Linked DNA regions of Homo sapiens. Changing the gene in region 2 together with the main gene of any one other region gives a genetic interaction. Each region holds a gene or a part of one and is shown on either strand. Other genes may lie near its edges.

Region 1 (8,434 bases), on a different chromosome or scaffold from region 2:
CACCGTGTGCGGCCTGGAACAGGCTTGTCTGTCTTGCTTATTGCTACGGACCCACACCAGGCACGTACACAGTAGGCGCTCAGTGTTTGCTGAAAGAATGGGCGGAGCAGGCCCAGCTTTGGTCCAGCAGCTCCAGCCGACCCCCTGCCCCTCAGCCTCAGGGGTCCCCATGCCTGCCAGGGAGGAGCTGATCGATGGGATGACCCAGGGTGCAGGCCCGGCCCAGGCCACCCACCTGATGCCTGAAGCCACGTCTCCCCTGCCCCGCCCCAGGTGGGCCCGGCCGGCTCACAGTTCGGCCTCCTCGCCTGCCTCTTCGTGGAGCTCTTCCAGAGCTGGCCGCTGCTGGAGAGGCCCTGGAAGGCCTTCCTCAACCTCTCGGCCATCGTGCTCTTCCTGTTCATCTGTGGCCTCCTGCCCTGGATCGACAACATCGCCCACATCTTCGGCTTCCTCAGTGGCCTGCTGCTGGCCTTCGCCTTCCTGCCCTACATCACCTTCGGCACCAGCGACAAGTACCGCAAGCGGGCACTCATCCTGGTGTCACTGCTGGCCTTTGCCGGCCTCTTCGCCGCCCTCGTGCTGTGGCTGTACATCTACCCCATTAACTGGCCCTGGATCGAGCACCTCACCTGCTTCCCCTTCACCAGCCGCTTCTGCGAGAAGTATGAGCTGGACCAGGTGCTGCACTGACCGCTGGGCCACACGGCTGCCCCTCAGCCCTGCTGGAACAGGGTCTGCCTGCGAGGGCTGCCCTCTGCAGAGCGCTCTCTGTGTGCCAGAGAGCCAGAGACCCAAGACAGGGCCCGGGCTCTGGACCTGGGTGCCCCCCTGCCAGGCGAGGCTGACTCCGCGTGAGATGGTTGGTTAAGGCGGGGTTTTTCTGGGGCGTGAGGCCTGTGAGATCCTGACCCAAGCTCAGGCACACCCAAGGCACCTGCCTCTCTGAGTCTTGGGTCTCAGTTCCTAATATCCCGCTCCTTGCTGAGACCATCTCCTGGGGCAGGGTCCTTTTCTTCCCAGGTCCTCAGCGCTGCCTCTGCTGGTGCCTTCTCCCCCACTACTACTGGAGCGTGCCCTTGCTGGGGACGTGGCTGTGCCCTCAGTTGCCCCCAGGGCTGGGTGCCCACCATGCCCCTTCCTCTTTCTCCTCCTACCTCTGCCCTGTGAGCCCATCCATAAGGCTCTCAGATGGGACATTGTGGGAAAGGCTTTGGCCATGGTCTGGGGGCAGAGAACAAGGGGGGAGACACAAGTAGACCTCAGGTAGAACGACACTGGGCGGAGCCACCCCAGGGCCTGCTCCCAGGGAGTGCTCGAGGCGCATCAGGCCCGTTTTTTACCAGTTTATATCACGGTCTTCATTTTTAAAAGTAACGCTAACTTTGTACGGACGATGTCTCATGGATTAAATAATATTCTTTATGGCAGTACATTGTCTTTAACGGAGACCTCAGGTAGCATGAAACTGGGATTTGGGGGTGAGGTGAGGGGTCAGCCATCAGCTGCTCAGAGACAGCAGTTTGGCCCGGTGGACAGCAGAAAACTTGTGGAGCATCTTGGGGAATTAGTTGGGCCAGAAAGCAGATTGGGGTCACGTGGGAGACCCCAGGGGTCCACTTGGGAGGGCTGGGTTGAATCCTTAGGGCCCTGGGGTTCCCACCCCTACCTGTTCTGCCTTGGCTCCAGAGCAGGGAAGGGGCTGCCTGGGCCCAGGGTGGCCTGCCCTGATGGGGATGGCACTGAGGGGACCTGTCACCCCACCCGGGGACGAGTCCACTCCCTGTGCCAGTGCCTCACCCACCACACTGAGGATGGCCAGTGAGGCACCGGGTATGACCACTTGATTACCATGGGCAGAGGGCCCTGCACCAGCTTCCCTGCCCCAAGCTGCCTCTACAGCACAGGCCTCCCGCCTCTGCCCCATCCTGCTGCTCCCCACTCTCCCCCACCCTAGGGGCTAAGGGTGGGAAGCGGCATCCATGAGGCTGGGGAGAATAAGGACACCCCCCCCCCCCACCGAGCAATGGGCTACTGTGAGGATGCCGCCTTGGTGCCTTTGCCCACCTGCCAGGAGGAAAGGAGCCAGGAACCCCACAGCACCTCCCATTGTCCCCGCTTACCAACCCAGCCCGGTCTCAGGTACAGAGTTCAGAACACAGGAGGTCCAGAGGCCTCGTGGGGACAGACAAGACACACCACTCCAGCTCAGGCCGTGAGAAGCCACCTTATCTCCTCTTTATTTAGCCCTGCTCTCTCCACTCTCTGGAAACTGCTGTCTCCATGCTCAGCTGAGCTAAGAGGAGCCCAGGGCAGAGACGGGGATCATGTTGGCAGCCAGGTGGGCAGCCCAGTTCAGCAGCCGCTGTTCCTGCGCAGGAAGGGGTGGCCCCGCAGGGAGCAGTGGAGCTCCATGAAGGTGAGGGAGCCCACGGTGATGGCGCAGGGGCCCACGGCGTGGAAGCTGAACCTCTCATAGAAGGGTACCAGCGCGTCCTCGCACATGAGCGCGGCCCGGCGCACGGCCGGCTGGCTGCCCAGGTGGTGCAGGTAGCGCCACAGCAGGATGGGGCCCCTGCCCTGCTGCCGGAAGGCGCGGTGCACGGCCAGCACATGCAGGTGGGCTATGTGGCCCCCAGACCTGTGCAGCGTCAGTGACTCCTGGGAGCGAGCAAGGGATGAGATCCCAGGTCACTTCTGCTGACACGTGCTCCCCCCCAACCACCAACCCAGGCAGGGAGCAGGTGTCCCCTGGGTGCCTGTGGTCAGGGCACCCACCCCAGCAAAGGAGGGCCCCAAATTGGGAGCCATACCCCCAACCCCATGGAGAAAACTTGAAGACCCAGAAGGTCTTGCTCTGGGAGGGGCCTGTGGCCTGTACTCATCTCTCCAGTTCTGGAGGAAGAAATCCCAGCCCCTGGGCTCCCCTCCCCGCCATCTGGCTGACCTCTGTCTTCAGAGGCCTCCCTGGAGCTGGGCGTCGCAGCCCTGTCCTCACCTGCATGAGTCTCTCCTTGTCCCAGAGCGAGCCGATGATGAAGGCCACAAGGCAGCCCTCCTCGAACCAGCCCAGGGACAGCTCTGGACATAGGGTCAGGAAGTGCCGGATCTCATCCAGGTACAGGGGGCAGACGCCCAAGACGGAGATGAAGGCTGTGGCAGGAGGCTCAGGTGGGTGACTGGTAGTCGCTGTGCCTCGCGTCCACTGTCTGCTGCACCCCGAGTGTCCACTCAGATGCCCCGTTCCCCACAGGAAAATGGGGGTTAGGGCTGCTGTTTCCCCCACTTTCTTGAGCGCACACATGGTCTGATACTCTGGGACCCAGCCTCCAAGGACAGGAGACTAAGGGTCTCCTCCCCACAGGATAACTGGACCAGAGTGGAGCATCCCTCTGACCCTGTGCGGGGCCACTCACCTTCACGCTCGATCTCAAAGGCGCTGACAGCGTCCTCCGGGGTGAGGCAGCGAAACTCACTGGCAGGGAGTGTGTGGCGCCGCTGACAGCTCGGGGACTCGGGGATCCCAGGTGGCAGACGTGGGGCCTCAGGTTTCAGGGGGTGGGTGCTCTGCGTGGACATTCTGGCCACTGGTGCCTCCTTGGGGCGCCCCAGCTTTGGAAGTGTCCTCCTAAGCCAAGGAGGGCCTCCCAGCACCTGTTGGAGAACAGCAAGGGACAGGGGTCTCATCCTCATCTCCAGGGAGGCAGGCCCCAGAGTATGTATCTGGCCTCTTTTGTAGCAGGAACTGGGGTGGAGACAGCCCCTAAATCAATGGGCACATTCCCCAGGTACCTGGTCCCCGAGGCTGTTACCAGGCATTGCAAACATTGGCACTGTCTCCCCACCTTTCCCTCTCAGCCAGAAGGATCCCTGGAGGTTTGCCACCTTGCAGACCTGCAGACATTGGTCTCAGGGTGCCGTCTGGGTGCTTCTGAGCCCCAGAGATGGTGGCAGGGATGAGCAGGGCTCAGTGGAGCCTGGGGCACCCCAACCCTGCTGCCCACGGTGGGAGGGGAGGCAGGACTCGTGACCCTCCACTGACCACGTCTAATGCAACTGTGCAGTGGGTGGGCGCCCGGTTCCCCCACACCACCATTCATGTGGTTTATCTTACCTCCCCAGAGGGAGGCTTCTGGTCCTTTGGGTGCAAGATCCTGTGGCAGAGAGCTTTTTAGGTAGCCTCAGCCCTTGGTCCTAGAGAGCCCCTTAATCAAAGTGGGCCCTTAGGGAGCCTCTACTTCTATCCAGATGGCCTCAGACTGGGCCACACACATGCAGGATTTGTGGTGGGGGGTGGGGAGGTTAGAGGGAGCCGGGGGCTGCAGAGGGCCTGGGGAATGGGGAGGAGCAGGCAAGGAGAGTGCATAGGACACCCCCTGCCCCACACATCCAGCTCATCAGACATTCCCCTCTGGGCACTCTTGTCTCCCAAGACACCCTGCAGATTTGCAGTTCTTAGAGGAGGCCATCCCTCCCTCCACCTTCCAAGACACTTAATAAACTCCATGGCTTCCATGTTTCCCTCCATGTCTAGAAGCTCCAAGTAGAGAAGCTCCTGTTCCTAAAGGCTGAGAGCCAGGAGTGGGGGTCCCACCTACCTGGACTGTGGAGAGGATACCCAGTGTTCCCTCCACAAAGCCGCTAGCCCTGGGGGCCTGTCCGCAGGCACGGGAACCAGTAAAATCCGGGACTCCGGGCTGCAAGGCTGTAGTAGCAGATGTTCCCCGGGCAGCCTGTGGTGCTGTTAGAGGTTTGTAATCCCCCCACCCCACCTCTCGAGCTATCCCAGGCAGGATGACGCCAGCAGGGCTCTGGCAGCCTCGGCCCCTGCCTTGCTGAAGGGAAACGTCAGCTCTGGTGCCCTGGGCACAGAAGGGATTACCAGAGGCTGACTGAGGCCCCAGGGTTTGGGGAAGAGAGCGTGGGGCTAAGCCTCAGGGGTCCATCTCTAATCCCTGCTCTGTCACCGACTGGCTGGGCACCAGCGATTCTCCCTCTGTCCCTCGGAGTCTTGGACAAGCCCACCTCTTATGTGGGGGGAGGGGGTGGGAATTCAAGCTACCAATTTGTGCACTTTAAGTACGTTCTACTTCAAGTTTATTTAAATATTTAATTTAATTAAATATTTAAATATTCAGGAGGTTGCCCTACCAAACATCTCAACTACAAAGCTCTCTGCTATTGACCTTGGCTCCACCCATTCCCAGGGCTGCCCAGGCCTTGGCACTTGGTGCTGGCATTCCCTCGGGATGCAGGCCCCTCTCCCTGTTGGCTCTGACTACCCCCTGCCCTCCAGCTCACACCCCATCCTGCACCCCTTAGCTCTTCTCTCGCCAGCACCTGCCTCTCCGCCCCACCCAGCAGTGCAGATCCTGTGTCCATCTCGGGCTCCTGGGGGTCCTGGAGGTTGGATTTCACAGGTGCACTCTTTTGACCCCCTGCAGAGGAAGCTTCTGCTCCTACCCACACAGCTTGGGACGGACCTCTGAGGGTCCTTCCTGTCCTGGCAGCCTGTGAGTGCCACTGCTTACAGCACTTGCTATGTGCCGGGCCCTGGATACGCGTCTCCTTTAATCCACACGGAAGCCCGGCCAAATGAGTATTAACCACGTTATAGAGAAGGAAACCGAGGCACAGACAGGTTCAGTAACCTGCTCAGAGCCATCCAACAAGTGAAGGGGGAGGGGCAAAGCCGGGTCAGCCTCCTGACATGCACTGCCACGGCTGCACTGGTGGGACCCACTCATCTCACAATGAGACTCCTGTTTCCTGTCTTCATGATTCTCCTGCTGGTTTTCAGTGTCCTCACAGGTGCACTCTTTCGACCCCCCCGCAGAGGAAGCTCCTGTTCCTACCCATACGGTTTGGGACACAGCCCCTGACCGTGGAGTGACCCCGTCCCGATGCCCCCGCCCACCCACCACATGCATTCCTCCTGTCTCTGGGTCCCCTTCTCCCAGGGCCCCTCTGCACTCTGAGGCCCACCTGCCTGCTAGAAGGGACCCTCAACAGACCTCTCAGGACCGACCAGAGACCTCCTTGGGCTTGGTTGGTGGGGTGGTCATGTCCAAGACCTCAGCTGGGCATCCCCACCTTCAACCTCCAGGGTCCCCCAAAAGGCCTCTTCTGTCCCTTCATAGACTGTGGCTCCATGGCACCCCCTGGTGGCCAATCCTAATCAGTCACTTGGCGATGCCTGAGAAGAGCCTGCTGTTCAATCGGCCTCTCTCTTTGCTGACTTCCACATGGCCCTGTTCTTTCCGGACAACACCCTAGAGGTCTAGAACCTCAGGGAACAAGATGAGGCAGTAAGCCAGGCACAGTGGCTCACCGCTGTAATCCCAGCACTTTGGGAGACAGAGACGGGAGGATGGCTTGAGCCGGAGAGGTCGAGGCTGTAGTGACTCGCCACTGCACTCCAGCCTGGGCGACAGAGCGAGACCCTGTCTCAAAAAAATACAAATAAAAATAAATTTTTTTTAAAGATGAGGCGGTATGTTAAACATGGTGAAACTGGGAAGTTCAAACCCTTGTGGGACAGGAGAGGAGACAGGGGAGGGCAGGGTGATCGCTGGGACCTTTGTCCTGGTCAACAGGAAGAAAACCACATACCACCACCAATGAGAAGGAAAATAAGGAGGGTGAGGGGCCCAACAGGGTGATGGGTACAGAGAGAAGGAGATCCCTGGGGCTGGGCATAGTGGCTCACACCTGTAATCCCAGCACTTTGGGAGGCCAAGGCAGGAGGATCACTTGAGCCCAGGAGTTTGAGACCAGCCTGGGCAACATAGCAAGACCCCTGTCTCTACAAAAAATTTAAAAATCAGCCAAGCATGGTGGCACACACCTGTAGCCCCAGCTACTTGGGAGGCTGAGGTGGGAAGATCACTTGAGCCTAGGTGGTTCAGGCTGCAGTGATGAGCCACTGCACTCCAGCCTGGGTAACTGAGCAAGATGTTGTCTCAAAAAAAAAAAAAAAAATCCTGACCTCAGGTGGGCTCTAAAAAAGAAGCACCTCCGAGATCATCCTCACGCCAGGGACACCGATTGCACTGTTTATCAGATGCCCAGTCTTGTCCTGCTATTGCAGTTAAGAGTGCTGGCAACGCCTCTGGTGACTGCCTCTCAGGTGGATCTTGGGGATGGGGGGGAGAATGTGTCCTTTGCCCCCCAAGTCGTACCTGTTCAGTCACTCTAGACAGCTGATAAACACCTAACCTGATGGGCAAGGCCGGGCACGGTGGCTCATGCCTGTAATCCCAGCACTTTGGGAGGCTGAGGCGGGTGGATCACCTGAGGTCAAGAGTTCGAGACCAGCCTGGCCAATATGGTGAAACTCCGTCTCTACTAAAAATACAAAAAATCAGCCAGGTGTGGTGGTGGGCGCTTGTAATCCCAGCCACTTGGGAGGCTGAGGCAGGAGAATTGCTTGAACCCAGGAAGCAGAGGTTGCAGTGAGCCAAGATCGTGCCATTGTACTCCAGCCTGGGCAAAAAGAGTGAAACTGCTATCTCAAAAAAAAAAAATATATAGATACAGACAGGGAGAAGCTGGCATCTGTATGTTTCCCAGGGGTGCTGTAACAGATGATACACAAACTGGATGACTGTAAACCACAGAAATGGCTTGACGTCGTGGCTCATGCCTGTAATCCCAGCACTTTGGGAGGCCGAGGCTCTTTGTTCCCAGCCTCTCCCTCCAGCAGCAGCTCCCTTGAAAGTCCTGTATCCACAACTCACCCACCGCGACTCCCTGCCCAGTGTGTACCATGCCACCCTGCCTCACCCATGATGGCTCCCCTCAGGGGTCCCCCTGTCTCTCCACCCAGCCTGGCCTCTTTCGATCTCCCAGACAGATTTACACATTTCAAATGCCAGATGGGGTTCAGTTTTCTCCCAAAAGGCTCTTCGGTCCCATGAAAATCATGGTCTGTGACTGGGCTTCCACTTCAAGACTCCAGAATATTCTTTTTTTTTTTTTTTTTAAGACAGAGTCTTGCTCTGTGGCCCAGGCTGGAGTGCAATGGCACAATCTCGGCTCACTGCAACCTCCGCCTCCCAGGTTCAAGCAATTCTCCTGCCTTAGCCTCCCAAGTAGCTGGGATTACGGGCGCACACCACCATGCCTGGCTAATTTTTTTTATTTTTCCTAGAGATGGGCTTTCGCCATATTGGTCAGGCTGGTCTCAAACTCCTGAACTCAGGTGATCCACCTGCCTCAGCCTCCTAAAGTGTTGGGATTACAGGCGTGAGCCACCGCACCCAGGCAGGACTCCAGAATATTCTATAGCAGTTTGGAGAGGGGTTGTCCAGGGCACACAGAGAACTGCCAGGGACCATGCTACCTAACTCCCCACCTGCCCTGGTAGAGCCTCACCTCTGACCCATCAGAGCCCCCATCCCACTCCTAATCAGATGTGGTGAGGATGATGACG
Region 2 (8,119 bases):
CTCGTATATTGTTTTTGTATTTTTCTGCATGTTTGAAATCATTCATAAAAATGATACTCCGGCTGGGTGCAGTGGCTCAAGCCTGTCATCCCAGCACTGTGGGAGGCCGAGGCGGGTGGATCACCTGAGGACAGGAGTTCAAGACCAGCCTGGGCAACATGGTGAGACCCCCGTCTCTACAAAAAATACAAAAATTAGCCAAGTGTGGTGGCGGGCGCCTGTAGTCCCAGCCACTGAGGAGGCTGAGTCAGGAGGATCATTTGAGCCCAGGAGGTTGAGGCTGCAGTGAGCTGTGATTACACCACTGCACGCCAGCCTGGGTGACTGAGCAAGACCCTGTCTCAAAAAGAAGATCAATGCCTCCCCTGACGAGTGGGGCGGAGGAAGTCCGGATGTTTGGGTTGACCCTGGAGCTGTGTGACTCTGGGGGTGGCCAGCAGAGAATCAAAGTGTCCCCTAGGATCCAGACCAGGGACAAGCCCCTCCCTGGGGGACCTCGGCCTGAGCAGGGGTGGAGCCGGCTGTGGTGACCTCAGCATGTGCCGTCTGGAGCCCTGGGGCTGCTCAGCTGACCGGCCCTGACCCTGGAGGCACCTCAGAGCACAGGACGACCCCAGCAGCTGCCAGGAAAGGCCACAGTCCTGGCTGGGGGCTGTGGGGCTGGGCCAAGGCCACTGAAATCTGGTAGACAAGGAAAGGAGAGCTGGGGACGGGGGAGCCCAGAACACAAGGCTGACAGCACAAAGAGAAAGCCCTCTGTCCCCAACAAACCTAGAAATCAACATCCCCAAGCTCGCATGGCCCAAACACACTAAGAAATACGACTCAGAAAATCAACAGGGCCAGTGGACCCATGGATCCATCTCAGGGAGATAAAAATAACGAGCAAACAGGTACGCTTAGGCTATGTTTAAATATGTGCAGGATCCACAGAGACAGCATGGATAAAATGTTAGGAAATACATTTGGCTTCTGTCTAAGGAGTAAAATGAACAGGCATCTATTTTTAAAAATTACAAATCCTGGATGTAAAAAATACAATCATTTAAGTGGAAAAAAACACTACAAAAGTGGTCAGAACCAACTCCAGTGTGGACAGCACTGAAGAGAGAATTGGTGAATGGGAAGAGGGTTGAAAGATTCACTGGAGCAGGGTGCTGGCACAAGGTCCAGAGAGGGCTCTGTGGGGTGGGCAGGGGGAGAGCATGGCTGGGCTCCCCCAGAACTGGCGACAGGATCCCTTCTGGGAGCGCACCTGTCCCAAGCAGCATAAAGGAATGAAAGAGCATCCCCATCAAGCTGCGGCATCTGGGCAGGGACGCCAGCCAGAGAGACACCAGCCAGAGAGACAGGACGGATTCCCACAGGCAGGAGCCAGAGTGCAGCAGAATCCTCAGCAGGGACGGAGCAGTGGCCTCCACGCAGACCCCGGGGTGGGAGAAGAGGGGAGGTGGGGAGGGAGAAAGAAAGACAGGGTGTGGGGAGAGAGGGAGGGAGAGGGAGAGGGAGAGGGAGAGGGAGAGGGAGGGGGTGGCAGGGAGGGAGAGAGAAAGATAGGGTATGGGGGAGAGGGAGGGGGAGGCGGGGAGGGAGAGAGAAAACAGGGTAGGGGGAGAGAGAGAGGAGGGAGAGGGAGAGGGATGGGGAGGCGGGGAGGAGAGAGGGAGAGAGGGAGGGAGAGGGAGGGGGAGGGGAGGAGAGAGGGAGAGAGGGAGGGAAAGGGAGGGGAGGTGAGGGGGGAGGGAGAGGGAGGGGGAGGTGGGGAGGGAGAGAGAAAAGGTGGGGGGAGAGGGAGGGGGAGGAGGGGGAGGGAGAGAGAGGGGGAGGTGGGGAGGGAGAGAGAAAGACAGGGTGGGGGGAGAGAGGGAGGGAGAGAGAGTGGGGGGGGAGAGAGAGAGACAGGGTAGGGGGAGAGAGGGAGGGAGGGAGAGGGAGAGGGAGGGGAAGAGGCCTGTGGCTCTCCGCTCCCCAGGGACCAGCATGGAAATCCAACACGCCATGTTTGCGGCTCCCTCTGGCTGCCTGTGGAGCATGCATTCCGGAAGGACAGTGGTCTGGAGACAGCCCGCGGGCTGCGTGGGAGTCCAGGTGGGTGGGATGGCGGCCCAGGTGCAGAGGCCTCTGAGCTGCACCCTCCCTGGGGAGGCACTTTCGGCCCATTCCTCCGTAGCAAGGAGGCCAGGTGGAGGGGACAGAGGAGCCACCGATGGTGGGACAGGGAGAGGGCGGCTGTCGGGCTCCGGTCCATCTCCAACACAGGCCCTGGGTCCCCAGCACGTGTGGTTCCCAAATGCCTGTTTGATTTTTTGTTTTCGAGATGGGGTCTTGCTCTGTTGCCCGAGCTGGATCGAAGTGGTGCTGTGATCACAGCTCACTGCAGCCTCGACCTGTGCTCAAGTGATCCTCCTGCCTCAGCCTCCCTGTCTTTGTAGCTTCTTAGCTTCAGAGGAGCCTCAGGGTTCCTCCAAGGCCACTCCCATGCCCAGAGCCCAGCGAGGGGCTCCACAGGCTGCCAGGTCCCCGGCTCTGCGGCCCCCAGTGCTCCACCTCCGGAGTTAGACTTCAGAGCAGCAAAGGACACAAATAGACCATTATTGCTGTACCTGACTCTTGGAACATAATTCTGCAAGAGCCGTTATTTGGAAGCAGTATCCTCTGAATCATAAAATTACGCACTCACGGGGAATTGTCCCGGTGGCCCTGTCCCTTGTGGGTGGGGGATTCACTGGAGGGGGAGCCAGCAGTAGGAGCTTTCTGATCCCGAGCCCTCGGCCACGAAGGGATCTGCTCAGCCTGACATGGCACTGGGAGAGACCCCGGCCCCTGACCACTCCCCACACGGGCTGCGTGGTCTGGGGTAAGTCACGGGCTTCTCTGAGCCCAGCTTCTGGGATAGGCAACTCCTGCAAACTGTAGGGTTGCTGAGCTGATGAAACTGAGTGAGCTTCTGTGTGCAGGGTGCTGCGTGCATCCACTCCCAGCAGCATCCATCCCTCCCATCTCCTGCCCCCACCCCACAACTCACCATCTGCAGGTGCCCGGTGTGCCAGGGTCAGCCCAGAAGCCACAGGGGACCCAGATGGCCCCAGTCTGCCCACAGCACCGCTCCCGGCCTCACCTCCCCACGACGGGGACCACAGCGGGGCTGGCATACACTGGGCGCTCAACGATTGCTCCCACAAGCTGCCCTAAGCAGCCCAGCATTTCCCCAGCATCCAGGAGGCCGCTGGGCTCCTCGGAGAAGGGGGCAGTCTTCACAGGGGCCTGGGACCAGAGGCGGGGCCTCAGCACCAAGTCCTCCATGACTGGGTGGAGGTCTAGCCTGCACCCTGCCAACTCCTTCCAGGCTAACCCAGCACGAGGTCGGGGAGTCGGCTCCTTCATGGGGGGCAGCGATGCGGCTGCAGCTTGGAGGGGCTGCGGAACCTGCTGCTCGGGGAGGCAGCGGCTCACACGGCCGGGGCCCACGCCGCACCCTGGAGAGGCTGCAGACCCACCCGGGCTCCTCCATTGTGTGCTGGGCAGGGGCAAACGTCGGGGGACACCCTAGCTAAGACTACAGGCCCCAGCCCCTCCAAAGGCCCCGGAGCCAGGCCTGTGCTCCCAGGACAAGCGTTCTGACCTGTTTCCTCTGTCGTAAGGGTGGCCTGGTGGCAGGCCACTGCCCCCTTGGGGTCCAGCTCTGTGAGTGCAGCCAATGGCACCCCTGCCTGTCCCCCACATACACGCCACCTGTCCCTGCGGCAGCCTGTGGCCAGGGGCACATACCCTCCCCAGGAGAGGGAAACTGAGGCAGGTGTGGGCCAGCCTGGAGCAGCAGCAGCAGGGGTCCCGCGTGCTCCGCGAACGCTTCTCGGGGCACCCTCCACACCAGGCACCTCCTGACAGCCTCGCTGGGTCTTGCTCTGGAAATCAACGCCAGGCGCCTGTCCTTGGTGCTGTTGACCAGTTTCTGCCCAGGAGGCTCTGGCAGTCCCCACCTACATAGTCCAGAATCACTGCCTTCAGAAAGGGCTCAGCCTCACTGGAACCATCCCCAACTTCTGTCACCATGCACTCCGCTCTCTTGCCCTTGAGGGGGCCCCAGGCAGGCTGGCAGGCTGGGGACAGCGGGTCGGGCACGTGGGTGGGTCTGGGGTGGGGGAGGAGGGCCAAGGGCACACACCCCAGTGGCGTGTTCTCTATTCTGGAGAGGGTGAAGACGCCAGGAGGATTCCAGGTACACGCGGTGCCTTGGACAGGAGGGGGCTCTGTTCGCAGCGGGCGGGGTGGCACCCCAGCCTCCCCAGTCTTGGGTTTCAGGGAACCCATCTGTGAGTGCCAGGTCACAGGGCCCCTGGGTGCTGGCCTCTGCCTGCTGCCTTCCAGGAGCTCACCGACCCAGCTGCGCGCAGGCACCAGTTGCCTCCCCCGGCACCCAAATTGCGGATCCTCCCCTCGCTGGGTGCCACGGGCACCCTGGGACCCTCCTTCCGTGGCCCAGTGGTTCCCTGTGGCCTGAGTGCCACTTCCGGCCCCCAGCCCCAGGCTCCGAGCCCTCCCCAGCCTTACCCACCCTCCTCCAGCTCCAGGAGCCAGCCCCGCTGTGGCCCCCGTCGTGGGGAGGAGAGGCCGGGAGCGGCGCGGTGGGCAGAGTGGGGCCATCTGGGTCCCCTGTGGCTTCTGGGCTGACCCTGGCACACGGGGTGCCTGCAGATGGTGAGTTGTGGGGTGGGGGCAGGAGATGGGAGGGATGGAGCTGCTGGGAGTGGATGGAACGGGAGGGGAGGGACCCCCGGCGGCGGCAGGAGAGCCCCGCGGGTGTGCGGAGGGCGCGTGGGGGACAGTGCGTGCAGCGGGCTGGGGGCGCACGGCGGGACCCCGGGCCGGGGCTGCGCACACAGGGTGAAACCCCCAGTGGGGATAACAGCCGAGGGCAGGGGGTGCCCGCGCGGGAGGGGGACAGGGGCGGGCGGCACTCACCTGGGCGGCGGCGCCCTCTGAACGGGGGAGCCCCGATGTCCGCGCGGCACTGGCTCCGGGCTCCCGGGCGCCGGCTGGGAGGGGGCGGGGCGGGGCGGGGGCGGGGCAGTGCCTGGTGGGGGCGGGGCAGGGCCGCTTCACCTGCTCGACTCCCGGGTCCCACGTCTGGCCTCCGGGAACCCTGGCGCACTCGCCCACAGCCCTGGTCCCACTGGCAGTGACCCCATGATCGCCTGCGCCCCCACCCTATTTTCTTGCTGTCCGCTCTGTGGTAGACCCCAGCTTGGGGTGGGGGTCCTGCCGCCAGCAGGAGTCCAGGGGGTCCCTCGTCGAGAGTCTGAAGAGGGTGGAGGGTCCTTGTTCAAGGGGAGAGGGTCAGGGGCTCTGCAGACGTCTCTGAGGGGTGGGCTGGGGTTGTGGAGATAAGTGGGTGTGTGGAGGCTGGTGGGGGCGGCAGGCAGCCCCAGCGAGGGGGGTCCGTGGTCGTGGGATTTCCAGGACACTCCACTCGGGTTTTATCCATGCCTTATTTGTGGATCCTACACATATTTAAGCATAGACTACCTGCTAAGTTGTTCTTTTTATTTCCCCTGAAATGAATCCATGGGTACACCTTAGTCCCTCACCTAAGGTGGGGTTCTCAGGCAGGCAGCAGAGTCACCTGGGTCCTCAAAGCAGATTCCTGGGCCTCGAGCTGGGCCCCCGACTCCCCAGGCAGTGAGGGCCTGGGAATCTGCATTCCTGAGAAGCTCCCGGGATGCTGATCCCCGGGCCCGCCGTGAGCGCCGCTGGTTGTAAGAAGCGGGACCGAGCGCCTCCTCCCGCTGAGCGCGGAGGCTGGGGATCACCGGACATTTTCCCACCAGGAGGTCCCCCAGCCCCCTCCCCTGACTCTGTGCCGACCCAGGGAGCCCCGCCACTGGCTGAATGAAGTGAGGCGCCCCCAGGTGACAGCAGAACTCGGAGGGCCCCTCTCTGAGGGGACATGGGAGCAGCCGCCTGCCGTCTGTTCACAGGTGGGGTCGGCTCCTGTTGAACAGGCGCCAGCAGCTCCCTTGAAGGCCGGGTACCGGGACCATGTTCTCTCCTTTAAGCGTTTCAGTGTTTCCACATGTTCTGCAAGCAGCGCGTGTTATGTTTACCATCGAGCAAGAGTGCTTAGAGGACCATGGCACCTGGCCCCAAGGTCCCCTCCCCTCCTCCCCAGCCTGCGGCCATGGCCAGGCCCTCAGGGGAGGCTGCAGGCTGGTCCCAGGTCCCCTGCCCAGAATCCGCCCCATAAGCCTTTCCATCCTCTCTGGAGGTACCTGGGCTGTATCCCTCCCACCCTCCCACAGCAGTGGCTTCCCAAGGCAGATCCTCTGAGAACCCCCTTTGTGACCCCTAACGCCTCCCCCATCTCCATCTGCTGCCCCTCCCCTCAGCCTCTGCCCACCATCCTCATGGTTCTCGCCTCAGCCCCTGGCTGTGTTCCTCCAGCTCCCACTGCCTCGCACCTGGGCCCCCATCTGTCATGTTCTGGGGCTCCCTGAGAAGCCTCTGGGGTCCCACTGTTCTGGAATCACTGGGTGCCCCAGGGGTGCAGGGTCCGGTGTGCGAGTCACGGCCCAGCGCCCAGTGGGAGCTCAGCCCTGCGGGTGGGTGGGCGCTGGATCTACTCACATCCCCAACATCAAGCTGGGACACCCCCCACCTCCAAGCACCTGGGCCCTCCTGGGGGCCTGATGGCCAGAGAGGGGACCTGTCGGCCCCACAGTGCCCCTCCCCACATCGGCCACCCTGAGTTCTGGGCAGGAGTCCCCTGGCCTCAGTCCCACCCACCCCAGGAGGATCAAATGAGGTCATGCCCGCCTGGGACGCTGCAGAGGTCAAACCCAGCACCGTGAGGATTAGGGGCTGCCAGTAGCCATGGCAACCGATGGTGGCTGGATGGACTCCGCAGGGACGGTCCTCAGACCCCTCTCCAGGGACCCCACCCTAACTGTGACCTGTCCCACGGCCCGTGACACCCCCTCTCCTGAGGCTGAGGACAGCAGCTCCCGGACACAAAGCCCGTGCCCCTCCCCCACCAGGCAGAGGCTTGGTCACTGGGCTGACTCCCCTGTAATTATTCAAAAGCAACAGGGGCTGACTCCAGCTCACCTGGAACACCCCAGAGGCCTCTCGTCTTAGTCCCCAGACTGGGCTGGGCCCTGGGGGTGGCGGCCAGGAGGAGTGTGGGGCACTCTGCCCTGCAGCCAACAGGGCCCTCCCTCCGCTCCTCCAAAGGGCCCCGCTGCCCACTGTCACCCTCTGAGCATCAGGCGTTTGCCCTGGCTGCCCCCCTGCCTGGTGCACCCCACCTCCCTTTCTGCAGGTAACTCCCCTGGCAGCTCAAGCAACGCTTCCTCCGGGAAGCCCGGGCCGCCCCACACTTGTTCCGTCGACCGCTGCCCCCAACAGCCTGCAGATGTTCACAGGAGGCCACGGGGCCTGGTGGGTCTCGACGTCGCCCCCGGGTCTGATCACAGCAGGATTCCAATAAACACGGGTCCACGTGCACCTCCCGGCCCTGGCTGGTGCAGCACAGCCCGCCAGACAGGAGGTCAGAGATCAGCCCCCCACCGGGGCAGCACAGCGGGTCACCAGCCTCCCGACAGGAGAAGAAAACACTGGCGCAGGCGCTGCCGGCATGTGTTGCTGGGACTGGGCTGGGAGGGTGTCCTGGTGTCTGAGAGCCTCAGGGAGCTACCGCAGAGCGTCCCCAAGAGCACAGGGTGCCCTGACATCCTGCGGATTCCAGCCTGGGGACCCGGCAGCAGGGGCTTCCCACCAAGGCGTCTGGAGTGAGATGCAGGCTGCAGCTGCCAAGGGCAGAGCGTGGCCCGGGGTCCAGACAGAAACAGGGAGACCCTCAAAGGGTTTCAAGGATGGGGCCTTCTGCAGGGGCCTGAGTCCCGCCCCTGGGGCCCTGGCTGACCCTCCTGGCCGTGGTCTCGAGCTTCAGTGGGCACTCTGTTAAAATGGGGTGCTCATTAAAATGCAGCTTCCCAGGCTACTCCAGCCTTCAGGATGGGAGGCGGGGGCAGTGCTGAGGCCCTCACCCACACAACCCGCTGGGGTGCCCACTCTGTCCCCTGGCACCTGGACCAGTGCCCAGTGTGGAGTGACGTCCCAT
Region 3 (6,529 bases), on a different chromosome or scaffold from region 2:
GTGATTGACACCTGGGAACAGTGGATGGGGCCTTGGTTGGTTGAGGTCGGCGTGACCAGGGAGGATCTGTGCTGAGCAAGACAGGGTAGGATCTGGGTGAGGCTGCTTCTAAACATTGAAATGGGGACTAGGGGAGTGGGGTGGAGCCTGTACAGAATAATGGGGCTTGGGCAAGACCTGGGCAGGATTCAGTCTGGGCCTGGTCCGTAAGGTGGGGCTGGTCAGAAGTGGGATAGGTTGGGGCCCAGGCTGCTGCTCCCCCTTCAGCATAATTGTTGCACCTGGGACGATGGGAGGAAGCTGCCCCAGGTCCATGGGCTACTGACCAGGCCAGATGGAAACCCAGCCTCTGTCCTAGGTGCTGAAGCACTTCCTGGTGGAGACACTAACTCAAGAGGACATAAAGATGGTCTACAGCTTCATATTGAGGCCTGGCACGTCCCCCCTCCTCACTTTCAGAGCGATTAACTAGTCTTGCATCTGCACCCAGGGTCCCAGCCTGGCCACCAGCTTCCCTCTGCCTGACCCCAGGCCACCTGTCTTCTCTCCCACGTGCACAGCTTCCTGAGTCACCCCTCTGTCCAGCCAGCTCCTGCACAAATGGAACTCCCCAGGGCCTCCAGGACTGGGGCTTGCCAGGCTTGTCAAATAGCAAGGCCAGGGCACAGCTGGAGACGATCTTGCTGGCAGGGCCTGGCCTTGTCCCCAGCTCCACCTGGCCCCTTCTCCAGCAAGCAGTGCCCTCTGGACAGCTTGACTCTACTCCCAGCGCTGGCTCCAGGCTCCTCATGAGGCCATGCAAGGGTGCTGTGATTTTGTCCCTTGCCTTCCTGCCTAGTCTCACATGTCCCTGTCCCTCTCGCCCTGGCCAGGGCCTCTGTGCAGACAGTGTCAGAGTCATTAAGCGGGATCCCAGCATCTCAGAGTCCAGTCAAGTTCCCTCCTGCAGCCTGACCCCAGGCAGCTCGAGCATGCCCTGAGCTCTCTGAAAGTTGTCACCCTGGAATACGATCCTGCAGGGTAGACTAAAAAGGCCCCTGTGGTCACTTATCCTGACACATTTTCAAGTGATACAACTGAGTCTCGAGGGGCGTGTGTTCCCCAGCTGATCATGTCAGCCTCATGCCCCAGGCCTCGTCTTTCATGGACCAGGTCTTGTTCAAGCAGCGAGTGTTGGGTCCTCTGCTTCCTGAGCTGTCCCCTGGAGAAGGTCCCGAGGATGCTGTCAGGAGATGGAAGAGTCATGTGGGGTGGGAACCTGGGGTGTGGTTCCAGAAATGTTTTTGGCAACAGGAGAGACAGGATTGGGCCAACAAGGACTCAGATGAGTTTTATTGACTCATTCCTCTGGTTGATACGGAGCCATGTCATGTGCCACGACCTGGGGTGGGCACAGGGAGGCTGCAGTTCCCTACGTGAACCTGCCTTGGGCCTCATCTGCTCCTAGCCCAGCAGAGAGAGTTGACCCCTCCTGAACTGGCCACTCCCCAGTGCTCCTGTGCAGGGATAGGAAGTGCCCCAGGGTGAGAACGTGCCCAGCCACATCATCTTTATCTCCTGGGATTTTCATTAGGGCAAAGATCTCAGCAGCCAGCTCCTGGTAGCTGATGAGGATCAGAGCGTTTGTTCCCCCATGAAAGGGGAAATACTTAGGTAATCATTCCAGGTGTGTTCAGTAGTTCCAGGACTCAGGGACTCAGGCCAGTCACCCTGTGACCGCAGGTTGCTTTCCCACCCTGGGCAATGCAGTGCAGCATGGGAAAGGAATAAGGGGGCAACAAGGTGCACAGACCTCAGAGATGGCTTCCTTGTTTATGGGGCTCTCACAGATACCCATCCAACTCCTCTAGTCAGCACTAGATCATGGGATCCTAAAATAAACCTTGGAAAAATATTTTAAAGCCTTTTATCTCAAAATTATTATAGATATATTCAAATTTGTTGACATATATATACAGGCAGGTCCCCCCGCCACCCTTCACACAGCCTCCCACCATCAGCAGCTTGCAATTACATAGAACAGTCTTCAAAACAGGAAATGGACAGTGGCACGATTCACTGAGCTTATTTAGAACTTACCAGTGAAATGTGTGCCTGCGAATGGGTGTGTGTGTGTGTGTGTGTGTGTGTGTGTGCCTGCCTAATTCCATGCAACTCTGTCCCACATGTAAATTTTTGTGTTTTTAAATGTAAGCTTAATTATTACTCAGTTGTGGTGAGGCCCACAGGCCAGGAGAAGACTGTGATTGAAGAAATAGTCTGTTACTGACAGCGTGCAGTGGCAGGGCTGTTCTTGCCATCATGACCTCATTGGAAGCATCCGGGTCAATCTGAAGGCAGAGGTTCTAGTTCTTCCTGGGGGAGGAGCCAGTGAAAGCAGGGTAGGCAGGCTTGGGACTGATTGCTTTGCATGATTACCCAGGGCTGCGAGTCACAGGGATTGTCTCTGGCTGTCTGGTGCCTGACTCTGGGGGAATCTGTTCAGGGGAGCTGTGGCCTGGAGTGTGCAACAAGGTGGCTGGCAAGACTTCACAGGAAAGGCATTCACCAGGGGGGACCTTGACCATCTGTAGTAACTGGCCAGCCCTGGTAGGGCATCCTGTCCAGGATGCAAGCCCAGAAAAGCATCAGAAGCACAGAAAATAACAAGGATGATTACATGATTGGCCTGGTGATGCTTGGATGTCATTATTGAGAAAGCACTAGCATTAGTTTCTTTATCCACTTGTTGATTGATGGGTGTTTGGGTTGGTTCCACGTTTTTGCACTTGCAAACTGTGTTGCTATAAACATGCGTGTGCAAGTGTCTTTTTTGTATAATGACTTCTTTTCTTCTGGGTGGATTGCTGGATCAAATGGTAGTTCTACTTTTAGTTCTTTAAGAAATCTCCACACTGTTTTCCATAGTGGCTGTACTAGTTTACATTCCCACCAGTATTTAGAAGTGTTCCTTGTTCATTGCATCCATGCCAACATCTATTTTCTTATTTTTATTTTTTGATTACGACCATTCTTGCAGGAGTAAGGTGGTATCACATTGTGGTTTTGATTTGCATTTGACTGATCATTAGTGATGTTGAGAATGTTTTCATATGTTTGTTGGCTATTTGTTTATCTTCTTTTGAGAACTGTCTATTCATGTCCTTAGCCCACTTTTTGATGGGTTTGTTTGTTTGTTTCTTGCTAATTTGTTTGAGTTGATTGTACATTCTGGATATTAGTCCTTTGTCAGATGTATAGATTGTGAGGCTTTTCTCCCACTCTGTGGGTTGTCTGTTTACTCTGCTGACTGTTCCTTTTGCAGTGCAACAGCTCTTTAGTTTAATTAAGTCCCAGCTATTTATCTTTGTTTTTATTGTATTTGCTTTTGGGTTCTCGGTCATGAAATCCTTGCCTAAGCCAATGTCTAGAAGGGTTTTTCCAATGCTATCTTCTGGAATTTGTATAGTTTCAGGTCTTAGATTTAAGTCCTTGATCCATCTTGAGTTGATTTTTGTGTAAGGTGAAAGATGAGGATCCAGTTTCATTTTCCTACATGTGGCTTGCCAATTATCCCAGCACCATTTGTGGAATAGGATGCCCTTTCCCCACTTTATGTTTTTGTCTGCTTTGTTGAAGGTCAGTTGGCTGTAACTATTTGGGTTTATTTCTGGGTTCTCTATTCTGTTCCTTGGTCTATGTGCCTACTTTTATACCAGTACCATGCTGTTTTGGTGACTATGGCCTTATAGTATAACTTGAAATAAGGTAATGTGATGCCTCCAGATTTGTTCTTTTTGATTAGTCTTGCTTTGGCTATGGGGGCTCTTTTTTGATTCCATACGAGTTTTAGGACTGTTTTTCCTAGTTCTGTGAAGAATGATGGTGGTATTTTGATGGGAATTGCATTGAATTTGTACAACATAATTTCAATACACCTGAGAACTACACATATATTTGAAGAATAATACTTGGTGTGTTGCTTGTGTCAAGGTAGCAGGTTGATCAATTATGTTTTTGGAGCATAACAATTGGTAAATTAGTAAAGTATATGTAAAGATTAGTGGCATTTTTGTGTAACCAAGGAAAAAGAGTGGTTGTGATGGTTAGAGATGCAGCGTAGAAGGTCACGGTAGAATCCTGGACAAGATTAGTAGGAGAAGTTTCTGGAGAGTGAGTGGTCCTTTCCCTGGAGGTAAGATGTTGATATGAGACAAGTACCTTCTGGGGAAAGTGATAATCTCCATTAATTTTCAGAGTGGCACAGAGACCATCAACCTTTTCCAGGTGTCTCTTCGGCACGGGAGTGTAGGGGTGTGGGTGGTTCTGGAGATCAGGGATTTTATAAGGATCATGGGTGTTATACATGTGTTGCGTCTCCCAGAAATTTCTGTGTTGAAATCCTAAGCCCAGGACCTCAGAATATTACTGTATTTGAAGACAGAGTCTTTAAAGAGATAAATAATGTGAAACCAGGTCATTGAGGTAGACCCTAATCCAATATGACAGGTGTCCTTGGAGGAAAAGGGATTAGAACCCAGGCACAAACAGAGGGTGTCTCTGTGATTTGGTCAATAAACCAAGAAGAGAAGCTTGAGCAGAAACCATCCCCCCGAACACCTTCATCTAAGTCTTCTAGCCTCTGGAATTGTGAAAAAACAACTTTCTGTTGTTTAAGCCACCCAGTCCAGGGTACTTTGTTATTGCAGCCAAAGCAAACTAACGTGATAGGCTAAGCAGTCAGCAAGCTGCAGAAACTCATTACAATTGCTAAAACCAAAGAAAGAAAAGCAATCCATGTCCTGTGTCCAGTTCATGCCTTAGTGTAGCTGAACCCAGGCTTGGCTGCTTGCTGCATGAAAACTAAACTCCAGAGACAAGAGTTGGTGGGAGGAAAAGCAGGTGTATTCAACAGCCAGCAACCTGAGGAGACGGCAGACTAGTGTCACCAAGACCATCTCAATACAGTACAAATTTTAGGCTCTTTTTAGTTAAGGGAAAAAGGAAGAGGAGGGAGGTGTGATTGAGAGGTGACCAATGACCACAGACTCCAAGGAGCCAGCAAGGGTCCGAGGAGGCTGAAAACTTCTTTGTCCTTGGTCAGGTCTCAATGCCCCTGTAAATCTTTAACAAAACATAGTTAACTGTTTACATGCTTTTCCTTTGATCTCAGAGTTAGTTTTAAAAAGTACATGACTGCTGTTTTTGTATTATTAACTCAATGCTTTAAAATTATCCTCGCCCATGTGCAGGAATCAGTAAAGGCCCTTTAAACAAAAAATGGAGTGAGTTATGTGCGTTCATTTGTTGCTTCACTTTTAGATTAGGAAAGGCAGTCATGGGCATTGCTGGGGAGTTGAGATTTTAGAGCCTGGGATGAAGTTGTGTCCTGAGTTGGGGGAGAAATCTTCTCCAATGGCAAGTTCTTGAGCTGAGTTGAGGTCCTGCAAGGCAATGTCATCTCCTGGGTGTTCTCCTGGGCCAGAGTGATGCCATCTGGGATGTGCAAGTAACATTTTCTTTTTAGTGGATACCTACTTGAGTTGATGTGGGTCTTGTGTTTATAGCTCTATGGTTTTATAATGAGCCTGAGGCTGAGCTCCAGCATTAATGCTCTCTAGGGCAGGCCCACTAATTTGGTCAATTGCAATGGCCCTGAGCCTAAGTTGCGTGGTTAATGAAGGTCAAGCCATGGGGGCCTTTTGGTCATAAGGCTTTTATCAGCCAAACTCAATGGCACGTGGACCTCAGCACAGCCCCAGCAGGACAAGTGCTGAGGTCCACATTAGGAGGGCTGAGCCTCCAGATTCCATTTAACAGTTTTTTGTTTATATTTTTGGATTTGATGAAGGTTTGGGCTCAAATGGGTCCTGTATCGGATGAGCAGATGCCTGCCCCATGGTACAATCCATGGTTAATGGATCCCAGGAAATAATTCACCCCCCAGTCTGGTGGCCAACCCTCCTGGGATGAGGAGGGTTGGCAAACAAAGATCCAAAATTTACAAAGATGGGGGAGTCAACATAAAAAGTTTTCCTATACATGAAGGTGACACATATGCCCCTTTACAAATAAGAAAGGGAAACTGAAAACTTTTAAAACTTGGTGTGAGATGAGTCAGTCAAGCAGCCTGGAGTAAGAAGAGGTTAGGGCCTGGAACAACAGTATGATCCATGTCAGGGACATGATCCATGTTCTTCAGGGACATGTGACAATATGATCCAGTCACAACCACTCTTTTTCCTTGGTTACACACAAATGCCACTAATCTTTACATATACTTTACTAATTTACCAATTGTTACACAGACTAGGATTTGAAAAAGAGTTGTTTGAGGAGAATATATTTCTATCAATTAAATTAAATTAAATTTGGGGGACATATCAGGGAAATGAAAGTTCTATTGACTGTCTTTTCCAAGACAGTTGGGTACTTTGAGAAGTGATATATGTCCTCTGGTTACTATAAGTAAAACTTGTAAGTTAAGGAGAAGTGTCCTGGTGTTAGTGTATGTGGAGACAGGTGATTTTGTTTTATATTTTGAGTATCT
Region 4 (7,636 bases), on a different chromosome or scaffold from region 2:
CCTGGGCAGGTGCAGGGGGAAGCGGGGGTGACTTACCACTGTGGCCAGCTCCCGGTCTTCTGTGTTGTACGTGCAGGAGGTGATGAGCACATCTCCCTGAGGAAAAGCCAATGTGACCATCAGCACCTGCCACCTGGCGTTGGCAGGTGCTGGAGGCCTCGCCCCCATAGGACCACGCCACTGTGCATGCCACGGCACCTCTGGGGTACAGTCCCTGTCGTCCACTACAAGGAGCCCAGCAGATTCATGTGCGAAGGTCACAGGCTGAGTGTTCCCGAGCAAGTTATAAACCATCAGCTCCTGTGACCCAGTGGGTCACAACAGGGCCAGGGCCCAGGCCAGTGGGGGTGCAGCTGGTGGGCCATGACACATCTCAAAGGACTTGGGCAAGTCCCCACCGAGGCCTGGGCTTGGCCCTCTGTGGGATCAGGGCTCCACTGCCTGCCTTAGTGCCCTCATCTCCCCCAAACACTCTCGGGTTTGTGGTCGGCCCATCAGACTGAGGACACGCGTCCCCTGGGAGTGTCCTGTCTGCTCCACTCTTTCCAACGTCTCTCCATGAACTCCTGAGTGAGTCTCCCCATGAGGTAGCCCAGCCCAGAGCCACCCACAGGCACCCTCCCCCTGCCCTGGATGGCTCTCCCTCCCCCTATCACTTTCTGTGTCCCTCTCCTTCTGGTGGCACCCCCAGCCCTCTCAGCCACCCCAGCTGGTGGCAGTGAGTGGGACAGCCTTCCCGCTGGGCACTCACCGGATGGACCGACACGACCTTCTTCAACATGCGGATCTCCTGGGGCAGGCAGAGCCGAGGGGTGGGGGAGAGGAGACCTCAGAGAGCTGCAGACCAGACCCCCGGCCACTGTGTCCTCCCTCAGGCCTCCCTGACCTCTGGGGGTGTCCATTTTGCCCCAGCCTCTACAGTGGAAGCCAGAGCCCGCTAAGTGTGGCTTCTGGCCAGGGAGGGCATTAGATTCAAACCAGAAGGTGGTTATCCAAGACCAAGATTGATGTTCCCAGAGGGCCGCCTGGGTCTCCCGAATCCCACCACCATCTGCCATGTGCCAGAGGCCTCCCTACGATCAGACACCAGACACCCAAGTGGGGAGCACAGGCCACATGGGTGGGGGGCGGGTGGGGCTGGCCCAGGAAAAAGAAGCCAGCCTGGAGCCATCCCTATGGTGTCAGGAAACAGTAGACCCAGGAGGTCGTGTGGTGGCAGGGTGTGGGGGCGGGGCAGGGGTGGGGTGCAGGTTCCTACCTGGAAGTGAGGGCTGTAGTGATTGTCCTGGTTCACGATCTCCCACTCCCGGCCGTCCCGGACCAGCACTGTGACCACCTTTCTCCCAGTCAGGTGTGTGTGGAGCTGAGAGGCGAAGATGTGGATCCCGGAGGGAGGCAGTGCCTGTGGGGTCGGGGGGCTGCAGTGTCAGGGCCTGACCCCCGAGGGGACCCTCCCGTCCATGGCCAGGACCCGGTAGGGAGCAGCCACCCTGGGCAGTTTGCTTCCCTGGAACACTTGCATTTTCTAGGTCTTTCTCCCCGGCCAGGTTAGAGCCACCATCAGAAACCTCACGGGGAAGAGCGAGGGGGCCGCAACAGCCCCCAGCTCCCAAAGAAGCAGCCCCTAGTCCCACTCAGGAGCGACTTTCTTTCCGAGTCCTTCATCCTCTCCTGAGCCCCTGAAGCCTGACAGGTTCATCTTCACTCAGTCAACAGGCCTTTAAGGCGAGCCTCCCGTGGACAGGGTGTGGCAAAGCCACCAAGCTGAGCAGCGCGTGGCCTCTGTGCTGAAGAGCTTGCTGTCCAGGGAAAAGCAAGTGGCAGAAGGTGGTACTTGGCAGGTCCCCTACGTGGTGGGCCGAGCAGGACCTTCAGCTGCCCTGCGTTGTGGCTTCCTTTCAGCTTCAAAGCAGCCAAGGCTGCATTCTCCCTGTGCTCAGCATCACCCCGTGCTACAGCTGGGAGCTGTAGCTACAACTGGAAGGTGGTCATCCAGGACCAAGATGGATGTGACCATGGGGTGCTGCAGCTGGACACTCTGAGGCTGCAGGCCGGCCTCACAGAAAAGATGGCAGCCCTCATCTCAAGAGGTCTTATGCCATCACTGGGGCATGAGAGAATCTTCCAGAGAACGAAAGTTTTCTCTAACCTAATGCTAACTTTTTTTAGATAGAAAATGCATTTCCATGGCTGGGCATGGTGGCTCATGCTTGTAATCCCAGCACTTTGGGAGGCTGAGGCACATGGATCATTTGAGGTAAGGAGTTTGAGAATAGTCTGGCCAACATGGTAAAACCCCGCCTCTACTAAAAATACAAAAATTGGCCGGGCATGGTGGCACGTGCCTGTAATCCCAGCTACTCAGGAGGCTGAGACAGGAGAATCACTTGAACCCGGGAGGCAGAGGTTGCAGTGAGCCAAGATTGTGCCATTGCACTGCAGCCTGGGCAACAGGAGCGAAACTCCATCAAAAAAAAAAAAAAAGAAAGGAAGGAAGAAAGAAAAGAGAAGGAAGGAAGGAAGGAAAGAAAGAAAGGAAAGAAAAGAAAGAAAAAGAAAAAGAAAGAAAAAGAAAAGAAAGGAAAGAAAAGAAGGAAAGAAGGAAAGAAAAGAACACGTCTTTCCTGAAATCGAGCATTTTCTTTGTGAGTCAGTTGTCCTTTTGCCCACCCGCTGCCAGGCTCTGCCCAGTTTGTTCATGCAGTCAGCAGGTCCCAGAGCTCAAGGTCCCGACAGCCCCATCCCTGAAGGTCCCAGATGGCCGAGCTTTTTAGGACTCACTTTTGCTCCTTCCCTCTCGCTCCCAAGCAGCGGCCGCCCTGACCTTGCCGTCGCCTATAGCTTTGTGTCCCTTGCAATGGCTTGAGAGGCCACTGTGTGCCAGGCCTGGGAGCCCAAAGGGTCCCAATGCCCCTTTGGCCCCCAGAGGCCGACCCTGGCCCAGAGATGCCAGGTGTCGGCCAGGTGGAGGGAGGACTATGCTCTTCTGGGCACTCTGGTCCAAAGCAGCACTCTTGTCTTGGCCTATTTCACTGGGATAGCTAGACTAGGCCAGATTTTGGCTGCAGAATTTGTGCCCCTCTTTTATCTGCCAAAGGAGAGACAAGACTGAACATTCTCATTCTGTTACTTAAGGTAGTGGAGGACTCTGGCAAGGGGAGGCGGGTCTGTATTCCTGAGGCTGGAGAGAGGCGTTCTCACAGTCAGCGGTCAGCGGGGTCGAAGGCCCCAAGGCCCTGCAAGGGGCAGTGAGTGCTGCCTGGCCGGAAGCCGCTCTTCCCCATGAGCCCTGGCCAAGGTGCCTTTTACATGGGCCCACGCTTCACCAGTGGGCGCTTTAGGGAAGTGGGAGAGAGTGTCCACCCCCGTCTGGGACAAAAGGAGCTGATTTCCTGCCGGAGACAATGGGTGCCATGCCGGCTGAGAGCTCCGTCTCCCTTCAGCCTTGAGGAACCTTTGCTTGGAAGACTGGGATGCTCTGGGGGCTCACCCACATGAAGAACAAATCCCAATCGACCCATTTACTAGGAAGGAAAATCCACTCTAAACCTCATTACAACGAAATCTGCTGTCACGGCCACAGCTTTCAAAGTCAGACAGACTGGTATTTGAATCTTCACTCTGCGTGACTGCTGGCAGTGTGATCCCAGCAAGCCTCAGTCTCCCCATCTGTGAAATGGGTACGTCAACACTTACTTTGCAGGTCACTGTGAGAAGTAAAGCTACCGCACAGGAGGAAATGTTTGTAACATATACACAAACTATGAAATAACATCCATCATATAAGAAGAACTCCTAGAAACCAACAGTAAGAAAAACAAACCACCTACTGGAAAAACCGAGCATAGGAATGAACAGAAAACAGGAACAAATGGCCAAGAGGCAGAGGAAAAGATCCTCAAGTCCACAAATAGAAAATTCAAGTTAAACAACACTGACATGTCTTCCTCCCAAATGACAGAAAATATTTACAATATTAATAATCCAGTGGGTCAGTAAAACCGGGCACCCTCTCGTCCTATGTGTGGGAGGGAGCAGAAGATGGGCTTTCTGAGGGGCATTTTGCAAGATTTACTCAAGGGAACACTCACATCTCTGAGCAGCAATTTCATGCCTAGAAATCTACATGAGAAAATGGTTTCCTACATGGACAAGGATTTCCCAGAAGCTTCTTTCTATTGGTGAAAAGTTGAGAACAGCCTAGACACTGATTGATAGGGAGACAGTTCAGCACAGGCTTGGACCAAGATAGGGCAAGCAAAGGAGGAGATTTTAGTAGTCACTCTCTGAACTCACCAGAAGCCAAGGACAGGACCTGCTGTTGGCGCCAGTCTAAGCGCCAACCTGTGCCTCCACCCAGCGTGCATAGCCCTGAGGACGGGTGCTCCCTGAGATCCTGTACCCGGCACTTCACTGCCTCACCTAGTCCTGCCCTGCTCAGGTGCGTGGTGAAAACCCCATCCTGTGGAATACTATGCAGCAATAAAAAGGCAAATCACCAGAAAAATGCCTCCCATTTGTTGAAAAATTTGTTAACTATTCAATACAACTTTTTAAAAACACAAAAGGTTTCTAACACCTGCAAGAGCTTCCTGAAATATACAGGAAAAAGGTCTGGAAGGACACAAAGAGCCAAGAAGTGGCTATCTCAGGGGGAGGCGGCAGCGGATGAGGGGAGCGTTCTCTTTAGCTGCAGTGCCTGCGCTTGTGAGTGGCAAGTGCATGTGTGTGTTGCTTACATAATGAAGGCATATTTTAAAATGCAGCTCGTGGAAGCCTGGCACGTGGGTGTGGACTAGTGGGAGCCATGGTTATTGCTGGAGAGGGAGGTGCATACACACACAAATGGCCTCTCAGCAGCAGGGTTCCCTTGCATACAGAAAAGAGGGAGGACCGCAGGGGGATTCAGGGTCAGGGGAAACCAAAGCTGTGCCTGCCACCCTTCGTGGGCCACGACCTGCCAGGCCTCCACTGAGGGACGCGGGAGGAGGGAGGGTGCAGTGCCGGGCCCAGCCCCACTCACCAGCTGGGTGCACTTGTCCGTGCAGTAGCCAGTGAGGATGAAGGCGGTCTCCCGTGGTGGAATGGCCATCACTGGCGTGTACACCAGTCCCAGCTCCATGATCCCCGCGTTGAAGCGCCGCAGCTTGGCTGTGTAGTACAAGCGGATGCCTGAGGAGTCGTTTCGTCCTGGGAGAAGGTGGGATGGATGGAGGTGAGCGGTAAGTGGAGGCCCTCTCACTTCCCCCTGCGGACAGATTATCCCTATGACCCCAGCCACCCTCAGCCAGGAGGCAGGGCCGGTCACCCCCCATCTGCTCCCACCTGCTAGGCAGACCAAGAGCTGGCTGTCTTTGTTTCCACACCTGTGGATGCCAGGCAGCTCGCAAGATCAATTAACGCAAACAGGCTACACTCACTGGGAAGAAAGAGCTGCTGTTTCTATGAAAACTAGTTGAATGCTATGGAAAGATGTGATCAACGTGAGCCACTTAAAGCCTCCATGGAATCAGGTGCGGGTGAGATGCTGCTGATAGACGGAAACTCGTAAACAACTTGAGTTCTGTGCTCAGATTGTTTCATAAGTGCTTTGATGTTCTTCTTCCACGTTCAAAGGAACCTAAGCTGGAAATCAGCCTGCAAGACGGTGACAACCTGCAGGGTGTGGTCTGGGCAAAGAAGAGGGCATGGAACTCCCATCTGCCGATGGCACAGAAGAGCCCTGGCCCTGCGTCAAAGCTGGGCAAGTGTGAGTGTATCTCTGTGTTGAGGTTAACAAGAAGCATTCAAGGAGCACATCCTCCCAGCAGCCCCCACTTTTACTACTTTGATTTATGTCCTGCAGACCCAAGGAACCCACCTACCAAGCTGACATCTCAGGAACAATTTGAGTGAGAATGTGGCCCCCCAGGAGGAGGGCCAGCGTTGCAGGTCTAGCCCCCGTTCATGCACAGGCCAGGTCCTGCTTGGTCAACAGCGTGCTGTGTGCTCTCAGATGACTTGCTGTCCCTTTATGAGCCTCAGCCCACACTCAAGGGCCTCTTCCAAAGGAATAACATGGTGCTTCTTCGAGTCACGGAGACTGTGTCTCCTGATTATGGTGTGGCCACACCTGTTAGTTCTCCTTGCCGTTTGCTAATTGGAGAGTCCCTGAAGCTCCCTGGGCCAGCCTCCCAGTGGTCACATGAAACTGATGGTCAGAGGTCCAGGGGGCCGGGCACGGTGGCTCACGCCTTGTAATCCCAGCACTTTGGGAGGCCGAGGTGTGTGGATCACCTGAGGTTGGGAGTTCGAGACCAGCCTGACCAACATGGCGAAACCCTGTCTCTACTAAAAATACAAAAATTAGCCAGGTGTGGTGGCACGCACCTATAATCCCAGCTACTCAGGAGGCTGAGGCAGGAGAATCGCTTGAACCTGGGAGGCGGAGGTTGCATTAAGCTGAGATCGTGCATTGCACTCCAGCCTGGGTGACAGAGTGAGATTTCGTCTCAAAACAAAAAAACAGAGGTTCAGGGATGCTGGCACCCACTCGAACATCCTCACAACCAGGTGTCATCCAGGTAGCCCCACCGTTCCTGAAACTCCATGCCTAGTGAATCAGCAGCCAGGCTCTGAGTACCGGCTGGGCTCATGGTTGGCGGAGGATCTAAAGGCCTGGCCCCATGCCCCCGGATGCATGGTGGACATGGTGGACATGGCGGACATGGCGGGGTGGTCTGGAGGGGCTGTGCAGCAGGAGGCTCTGCCCCCTGGGTTATGTACAGGAAAGGGATGTCAGGCGGCAAGGAGTGTGAAATTGACAAGGGGTTTTAATTCACAGGGAAGAGGCTTCTGATGAAGTTTAAGTAAAAAAACAAACAACAATGAAAAAAAAAGATATAAAATTCTAGTCACAAGAAAAAAATTAATGGGCCAGAAAAGCAGTCAGGACAGACACATAGCTGGGTGACCAGTGCTCACTTCAAAACTTGGAGCCGGGAGCTGGGGGGTGGTTTCATCTTCTTCATGCTTTTCTGCTGTCCATCTTCTCACCAGTGTACATGCATTGCCCTTTCTGATCAAACCAAGAGGGTGGTACAGATACTAACATCTTCCCTGGGTGCCAAAAATGCTCTAAGCATAACCTACCCCTTTCATGGAAGTTTTGCACAGTGAGAATCATCAGCCCTATTTCACAGATTAAGAAACTGAGGATGGAGCCTGAACTGAAGACTCCACACAAGACCACAGGGCTGGGAAGTGGCCAAGCTGAGGTTCAAACCCAGGGCTGTGGACTGGGGTGCAGGGCACTTCCAGGGGGCCCAACCATCTCCCTACTTGTTTCCTTTAAGATGAGGCCAAAACAACTCCTCTTGCCTCTGCCTTCTTCCCTCGACACCCCTACACCATCCAAACTCAAACGGCTCCTGTATCTCCAGGCTGATTACATCAGAGGATAATAATAAAAAGGGTGTTGCAATTGGTTAAAATTCAGATGGGGATTAAATCATGAAATAATTGTGGGATTTTGATATTTATAGAAAAGCAGCCCATCTCAAGATGGGTGAAGTGACAGGAGCGTCCTTATATTTGGCAAAGGATCCATAAATACAACCAGATAATCATGAAGAGACAGACTTCCCTGATGCTTCAG

Evidence for each region.
Region 1: changes in SSTR5 (region 2) and AANAT together harm fitness more than expected from each alone (negative genetic interaction), as found in Homo sapiens cells (one large-scale study listed by BioGRID).
Region 3: changes in SSTR5 (region 2) and CYP11B2 together harm fitness more than expected from each alone (negative genetic interaction), as found in Homo sapiens cells (one large-scale study listed by BioGRID).
Region 4: changes in SSTR5 (region 2) and DBH together harm fitness more than expected from each alone (negative genetic interaction), as found in Homo sapiens cells (one large-scale study listed by BioGRID).

Annotation. Positions count from the first base shown.
Region 1 is NC_000017.11:76,463,892-76,472,325, reverse strand, and holds AANAT (serotonin N-acetyltransferase), read right to left. Parts: upstream 4,724-8,434; 5' UTR 4,599-4,723; intron 3,655-4,598; coding exon of another isoform or gene 3,580-3,654; coding exon 3,417-3,579; intron 3,210-3,416; exon of another isoform or gene 3,154-3,209; coding exon 2,999-3,153; intron 2,662-2,998; coding exon 2,356-2,661; 3' UTR 2,209-2,355; downstream 1-2,208. Other genes in the region: RHBDF2 (inactive rhomboid protein 2), read left to right, coding at 274-693. UniProt on the Homo sapiens protein: Controls the night/day rhythm of melatonin production in the pineal gland. Catalyzes the N-acetylation of serotonin into N-acetylserotonin, the penultimate step in the synthesis of melatonin.
Region 2 is NC_000016.10:1,069,666-1,077,784, reverse strand, and holds the start of SSTR5 (somatostatin receptor type 5), read right to left. Parts: upstream 5,039-8,119; 5' UTR 4,963-5,038; intron 162-4,962; exon of another isoform or gene 73-161; intron 1-72.
Region 3 is NC_000008.11:142,905,923-142,912,451, reverse strand, and holds the end of CYP11B2 (cytochrome P450 11B2, mitochondrial precursor), read left to right. Parts: intron 1-358; coding exon 359-472; 3' UTR 473-1,893; downstream 1,894-6,529. UniProt on the Homo sapiens protein: A cytochrome P450 monooxygenase that catalyzes the biosynthesis of aldosterone, the main mineralocorticoid in the human body responsible for salt and water homeostasis, thus involved in blood pressure regulation, arterial hypertension, and the development of heart failure.
Region 4 is NC_000009.12:133,645,400-133,653,035, reverse strand, and holds part of DBH (dopamine beta-hydroxylase precursor), read right to left. Parts: intron 5,191-7,636; coding exon 5,024-5,190; intron 1,403-5,023; coding exon 1,259-1,402; intron 791-1,258; coding exon 752-790; intron 97-751; coding exon 37-96; intron 1-36. UniProt on the Homo sapiens protein: Catalyzes the hydroxylation of dopamine to noradrenaline (also known as norepinephrine), and is thus vital for regulation of these neurotransmitters.